2 linked regions of the Homo sapiens genome follow. The protein of the gene in region 2 purifies or fractionates together with the protein of the main gene of each other region. This does not show direct contact. Each region holds a gene or a part of one and is shown on either strand. Other genes may lie near its edges.

Region 1 (3,818 bases), on a different chromosome or scaffold from region 2:
AGGTGCTTCCTCCACCAGTACCCCCATCCTCAGCCAGAAAGTCTGTTAGGGAGATAGTCTTCCCCTTCTTATTCTTCTTTTTTGCTGTTTTAAAAGGCAAGAGAAAGATTATTCACCAATACTCAGGTATTTACAGAGTTGTACAATGCAATATTGTAAAACATTATTTAGAAAGAAATAACATGGACGCTCCTCAAATGGTTAAATTATGGCATTTCCATGAAGGGGTACTATGCAGACATAAATAAGAAATTTAAAAGTTGCAGAATACCTATTATGTGTAAACACATGTTTACGTACGGAAAAGGGTCTGAGTGTTTGAGATACACCCTGGAGAGTATGTTTGGAGTGTGGGGGCAACCTTTTATTTTCTACTATATTCACTTATCATTTGAGATCTTTAATTTTGTAACTACTTCTATTCAGTTACTACTTTCACTGCTCTTTGGATAAAAAAGATCAATAAAAATTCGTATCTCACATAACATATTCAGTATGGCAGTTTTGAAGACTGTTTTGACACTTGTAAACAAACCATATAGGGAAGGAATCACAACTGTCTTTTTTTTTTTTTTTTTGAGACAGAGTCTTGCTCTTGTTGTCCAGGCTGGAGTGCAATGGTGCCATCTCGGCTCACTGCAACCCCTGCCTCCTGGGTTCAAGCAATTCTCCTGCCTCAGCCTCCCGAATACTTGGGATTACAGGCACCCGCCACCATGCCCAGCTAATTTTTTGTGTTTTTAGTAGAGACGGGGTTTCACCATGTTGGCCAGGCTGGTCTTGAACTCCTAACCTCAGGTGATCCTCCTGCCTCGGCCTCCGAAAGTGCTGGGATTACGGTGTGAACCGCCACACCCGGCCCCATTTTTTTTTTTTGAGACAGGGTCTTGCTCTGTTGTCCAGGCTGTAGTGCAGTGGTGTGGCCACGGCTATCTGAAGCCTCAACCCTCCCATGCTCATGTGATCCTCCCACAGCCTCCTCAATAGCTGGGACCACAGAGGCACACTACCACGCCCAGCTGATTTTTAAAAAGTTTTTTAATTCCCTATGTTGCCCAGGCTGGTCTCAAGTATCCTGGAGGATCCCAGGCTCAAGTGATCCTCCTGCCTCAGCCTCCCAAAATGCTGGGATTACAGGTATGAGCCATGGTGCCTGGCCACAACTATCAATTTACAGAAAAGGAAACTAAGTCTCAGAGAGGTTAAGTGAAACACCAGATGTCTGTAAAGTTACAGAGACATTAGATGGCTAGGCTGAAGATAAAACCTAAGTTTTTTTCATACGAAGTCTAAGGCTCTTTCTATATACCAAGGTATCCTTGCATCTCAGCAGCTTATTCTATGTCAGGTTATCAAAACCACAGTAAAACGTACTGCTATTTGAAAGTGTTCAAATGTTAACAGTCATATTCCCTAGATCTCTCTGCCCTCTAGAAAAAATGTCCTCCTCTACTATAACAACACTGCATATGAGGATGTAATGCTAAAAGGAAAACACACGAAAACCCTAATAACCAACACATTTAAGTGTTTCCCACAGTTATGGAATATTTAGTAATCTCCAAATGGCTCAACTTAGTGAACTGACACTGCTCTTTCTTTGTGGTCCTCAGAACTTCCGAGAAGTCACCACCAATCAAGAGCTGATTCAGAAGAGCAGAGGGACTCAGTGAAGTTCCAGAACTGGCCTGATAGCAGCCACTACATGATTAAGAAAAAAACAAGCAGCTTTGTTGTAAAAAAGATTGGCTTCATGGTTTTTATAATCATGAATTTCTCCTCCATGTTCCAATTGTCACCTGATTTTTAATCCAAGAATATCAAACTTGATGTACCCCTTTGTTTAACTGAAGGTTGCTTTCTCACTTGGTATCCCTTTCTTTCAAAATTTAACTTTCAGGAAATAAAGGTAACCAGTTTGCTATGAATGTTAACACATAGCCTTCTGGACACAATTAGAACCTGAAGTATTACGGTCTCAATGTGCAAACCAGATGAACCCGGCTAAAATAATCAAAGTTGACCACGAACATGGTATTTTCTGTATCTCTCAAGTGACTTAATATTAATCCAGCTCCAAAAGTATTGTTTATGATCAACCAGATCACATTTTGAATCCATCCTACGCTTTTTTTTTTTTTTTTGAGACGGAGTCTCGCTTTGTCATACAGGCTGGAGTGCAGTGGCGCGATCTCAGTTCACTGCAACCTCCGCCTCCCAGGTTCAAGCAATTTCTCCTGCCTCAGCCTCCCAAGTGGCTGGGACTACAGGCGCGTGCCACCACGCCAGGCTAATTTTTTTTTTTTTTTTAGTTTCACAGTGTTAGCCAGGATGGTCTTGATCTCCTGACCTCGTGATTAGCCTCCCAAAGTGCTGGGATTACAGACGTGAGCCAACGCGCCCGGCCTGCTTTTTCTTTTTTCTTTTTTTGCAGTGGTGCAATCGTGGCTCACTGCAGCTTTGACCTTTTGGGCTCAAGCAATTCTCCCACTGTAGCCTCTTGAGTAGCTGGGACTATAGGCATGCACCACCATGCCCAGCTAATTTTAAAATTTTTTGTAGAGGCAGGGGTCTTGCTACACTGCCCAGATTGGTCTTCAACTCCTGGCCTCAAGTGGTCCACCCGTCTCAGCCTTCCAAAGTGCTGGGATTAGATGTGAGCCACTGCACTTGGCCTTATTCCACAGCTTTCAAAGAATACGGTTACAGAGAGGTTGGGTCTCATAGCACTTTTATTGCTGCAGCTCATATGCAAAGGTTTTTTTTTTTTTTTAGAGGGAGTCTCACTCTTGTCCAGGCTGGAGTGCAGTGGCGCCATCTTGGCTCACTATAACCTCTGCCTCCCAGGTTCAAGTGATTCTCCTGCCTCAGCCTCCTGAGTAACTGGGATTACAGGCATGTGCCACCAAGCCTGGCTAATTTTTGTATTTTTAGTAGAGATGGGGTTTCACCATGTTGGCCAGGCTGGTCTCAAACTCCTGACCCCAAATGATCCACCCACCTCGGCCTCCCAAAATGCTGCGATTACAGGCATGAGCCACTGTGCCCAGCCTCATATGCAAAGATCTATGGGAGATTTTAATAAGCGAACACGAGTAAGACATGAGGTAAACCACTTACAGTGCGTGGGCTTATTTTAGACTTTTTCATATCATTTAATTCAAAAATAGTGTCTGGGATTAATATGATGCTAGCTACAGATCCTTACCCTCATGGGGCTTAATCTAGTACCATCAGCTAATATCCAATTATTAACCTGTCCTTCCACTGGGAGGATAAAAACAGAACTGGTGGTCAGTACAATAAGGTCAAGTTCAACAAAAGAACATTAACAATCTGAATAAGGTATCCCTTTCCTCTTTGTTCTATATACGTATCTTCTACCAAAACAGCAGAATGTGGAATTAATCTGCCCTTTAGTCCGATTTGGCTTAAATCAACTTTGTAGATCACAGTTTCTCAACTCTCACCCCTTGACTCCTTTGACAAACAAGTTTCTTCTTTAACGTTATTTGAAATTTCCAAACAAATTAAATATCATGACTAAAAAATATTAAAAGCACTTTTAAATCTTAGAATGTCTTTTCAAATCACAAGTCTCCCCCTCCTCTGATTGCCACCCACTCCCAGGCCCTCTGGTTAAGAAATTACTGTTGGGTGTGGTGGCTCACGCCTGTAATCCCAGCACTTTGGGAGGCCGAGGCGGGTGGATCACGAGGTCAGGAGATCGAGACCATCCTGGCTAACATGGTGAAACCCCGTCTCTACTAAAAATACAAAAAAATTAGCCGGGCATGGTGGCGGGCACCTGTGGTCCT
Region 2 (3,818 bases):
AGTGCTAGAGTATGGGGTGAAATGTCAGTTTTTAATTCCATAGGAATGGACAATAAAAACAAAAATTTTATGTTTAAATGGTTTTACCTGAAATTATATGACTAGAGCATGTTTCTCTTTAAGGATTATTTTAAAGGACATCTAATCACCTCCCACAAGGTGTCTCCCCAAACACGTGAGGATTACAGTCTGGATTACAATTCAAGATGAGATTGAGGATTACAATCTGGATTACAATTCAAGATGAGATTATGGGTGGGGTCACAGCCAAACCATATCAGTGGCACACACCTGTAGTCAGTCCCAGCTATTCAGGAGGCTGAGGCAAGAAGTTCGCTTCAGCATGGGAGGTCTAGGCTGCAGTGAGCCATGATCGCACCACTGCACTACAGCCTGGGTGACAGAGCAAGACCCGTTTCAAAAATAAAAAAAAAAAGAAATATTATATACAAACAACTCCTGGAGGAAGGTGATACAACAATTAAACTTGGGCTACAAAGTCCTGTTACCTGGAAAGCTACACTTTCGCTGGCAAAACTGCCCAGTTGCTAACCCCCTGGGTCATAACCCCACCTAAAGGTCTCTCTATAAGAAGCCCTGCCCAAGTGGCCATATAAAATCATCTCTGTGGCTGGGCATGGTGGCTCATGCCTGTAATCCCAGCACTTTGGGAGGCTGAGGCGGTTGAATCACCTGAAGTCAGGAGTTCAGGACCAGCCTGGCCAACATGGTGAAACCCCGTCTCTACTAAAAATACAAAAAAATTAGCCGGGCATGGTGGTGGGTGCCTGTAATCCCAGCTACTCGGGAGGCTGAGGCATGAGAATCACGTGAAAGGCGGGGGTTGCAGTGAGCCAAGATCGCACCACTACACTCCAACCGTGCACCACAGCGAGACCCCATCTCAAAAAAAATAATAATAATAATAATAAAATCATCTCTGCCCCAAAGCTATTTCCTCAGATGCAAACATTTTCCTTGACCATAGCCAATTAACCTCTCAACATCTAATCCACCTCCCTTTGGAACTGGCTGATACCTTGAGAAACCTTTCTTCTCCACAGAGGGTCTGCCAGTTCAGATGCTGAAAAGTTTTTCTATCTGGAGAAACCCATAAGCCATACTATTAGACCTATGCCCCAAAGAGCTAAGCTAAGTTAAACACACAGTGTTTACAAATGAGCAGCTGAAAAGGCACACAAGCTTAAGTTGCAGAAGACACACACTTGATTTTCCTTGCTATGGAGGGCCCTTTAGAACATTCCCTACAAAGTTATTTTAGAATGTGAAGAGACAGCTGGGAGCGGTGGCTTGAGCCTCTAATCCCAGTACTTTGGGAGGCCAAGGCGGGCAGATTGCTTGAGCCCAGGAGTTTGAGACTAGCCTGGGCAACATAGTGAAGCCCTGGTCTCTACAAAAAATAGAAAAAAAATTAGCCGGGTTTGGTGGCATGCGCCTAGACCCAGCTACTGGGAGGCTAAGGTGGGAGGGATGGCTTGAGCCTGGGAGGCAGGGGTTGCATTGAGCTATGATCGTGTCACCACTGCACTCCAGCCTGGGCTACAGAGCCAGACCCTGTCTCAAAAAAAAAAGAATGTGAAGAGACAGAGAACTGAATGCAAAGACCCTAACTCAATAAAACTTTGTTTTCTTCACATGCAAAACAATCAGAAATGCTCTTTGTTTTGTAATCTGGCCACCAGCCACTAGGCCCATATAGGGGTGGAGGAGCCTAGACCTGCTAATCTCGGCGCATGTGAGTGGGGTTATTGCTGTCCTCTCAACAAGAACCCAGTTTTGAGAGACAGGACTTGCTGGATTTCCTAGGCTGACTAAGAATTCCTAAGCCTAGCTGGGGAAGGTGACTACACCTACCTTTAAATACAGGGCTTATAACTCAGCTCACACCCAACCAATCAGGTAGTAAAGAGGGCTCACTGAAATACAAATTAGGCTAAAAGCAGGAGGTAAAGAAATAGTCAAATCATATATCGCCCGAGAGCACAGGGGGAGGGAAAATGATCGGGATATAAATCCAGGCATTCGAGCCGGGAGGGGCAACCTCGTCTGGGTCCCTCCCATTGTATGGGAGCTCTGTTTTCACTCTATTAAATCTTGCAACTGCACACTCTTCTGGTCTGTGTTTGTTACGGCTCGAGCTGAGCTTTCGCTCACCGTCCACCACTGCTGTTTGCCACCGTTGCAGACCCATCGCTGACTTCCACCCCTCCAGATATGGCAGGGTGTCCGCTGCGTTTCTGATATAGCAAGGCGCCCATTGCCGCTCCCAATCGGGCTAAAGGCTCGCCATTGTTCCTGCATGGCTAAGTGCCCGGGTTCGTCCTAATCCAGCTGAACACTAGTTGCTGGGTTCCACGGTTCTCTTCCATGACCCACGGCTTCTAATAGAGCTATAACACTCACCATGTGGCCCAAGGTTCCATTCCTTGGAATCCGTGAGGCCAAGAACCCCAGGTCAGAGAACAAAAGGCTTGCTGCCATCTTGGGAGCGGCCCACCACTATCTTGGGAGCTCTGAGAACAAAGACCTGTCCGTTAACAGTTTCCCTATACTGATCCAGCTCCTGGAGTATCTGCTCCCTGACATGTCTCTATGTCCAGTCCCCTTGTCAAGATGCATGTAGATGCATTAGACACAACAGATGTCTTTTGATTCTCCATCAAAATCAATAAAACATAAAACATTTGGATAACATAAAAATTGCAGGTGACCTGAATGCCAGTATTGAAAACAGGTCCATTTAAAGCCCAAGTCATGGCAGAGTAGGCTAGGAGGATTCCTTCCTTTTGGCTTCACTTTCAGGGATGGTCATTTTAATTAAGGTGGGGATCATTTTAAAATCACATATAAACACAAACAATATTATTAAATAGTGATTTCTGACATAAATTAGGGAAAAATGTGGTTCACATTTCAGTCAAACAATATTTAATAATTAGCTTTTCCCTGCTTAGCGCCATTTATAAGACAGGCATTTAAGAGTCAAAAAAACAAACAATGTTGCTTTACTCTTAATAGCCAAAAACTGGAAACAACCCCAGCACTTTGGGAGGCCGAGGCGGTTGGATCACCTGAAGTCAGGAGTTTGAGACCAGCCTGGCCAACATGGTGAAACCCATCTCTACTAAAAATACAAAAATTAGCCAGGCATGGTGGCAGGCACCTGTAATCCCATCTACTCTGGAGGCAAAGGCAGGAGAATCATGTGAACCAGGGAGGCGGAAGTTGCAGTGAGCCGAGATCATGCCACAGCACTCCAGCCTGGATGACAGAGTGAGACTCCATCTCAAAAAAAAAAAAAAAAACAAAACAAAAGTTTAGGCCAGGCACGGTGGCTCACACCTGTAATCCTAGCACTTTGGGAGGCCGAGGTGGGCAGATCACTTGAGGTCAGGAGTTCGAGATTAGCCCTGCCATCATGGTGGAACACCATCTCTACTAAAAATACAAAAATTAGCCAGGTGTGGTGACGGGTTCCTGTAATCCTAGCTACTTAGGAGGCTGAGGCAGGAAAATCGCTTGAACTCAGGAGATGGAGGTTGCAGTGAGCCAAGATCAAGCCACTGCACTCCAGCCTGGATGAAAAAGCAAGACTCTGACTCAAAACAAACAAACAAACAAAAAAACCCACCAATCTGTGATATATTCATACAAAGGACTCAATAATAGAAAAGAACAAACTACTACATGTATGAATTTATACATGTATGAATCTCAAAAACATGCTGAGGAAAAGCCAGGCATAAAAGAGTAGCAACAGTGTGATTTCACTTATATCAAGTTCTAAAATAGGCAAA

The links.
Region 1: the proteins of ERCC6L (region 2) and EIF4B purify together in Homo sapiens (affinity purification with mass spectrometry; one large-scale study listed by BioGRID and IntAct). This does not show direct contact.

The regions. Positions count from the first base shown.
Region 1 is NC_000012.12:53,012,739-53,016,556, reverse strand, and holds part of EIF4B (eukaryotic translation initiation factor 4B), read right to left. Parts: intron 85-3,818; coding exon 1-84. UniProt on the Homo sapiens protein: Required for the binding of mRNA to ribosomes. Functions in close association with EIF4-F and EIF4-A. Binds near the 5'-terminal cap of mRNA in presence of EIF-4F and ATP.
Region 2 is NC_000023.11:72,211,364-72,215,181, forward strand, and holds part of ERCC6L (DNA excision repair protein ERCC-6-like), read right to left. Parts: intron 1-3,818. UniProt on the Homo sapiens protein: DNA helicase that acts as a tension sensor that associates with catenated DNA which is stretched under tension until it is resolved during anaphase. Functions as ATP-dependent DNA translocase. Can promote Holliday junction branch migration (in vitro).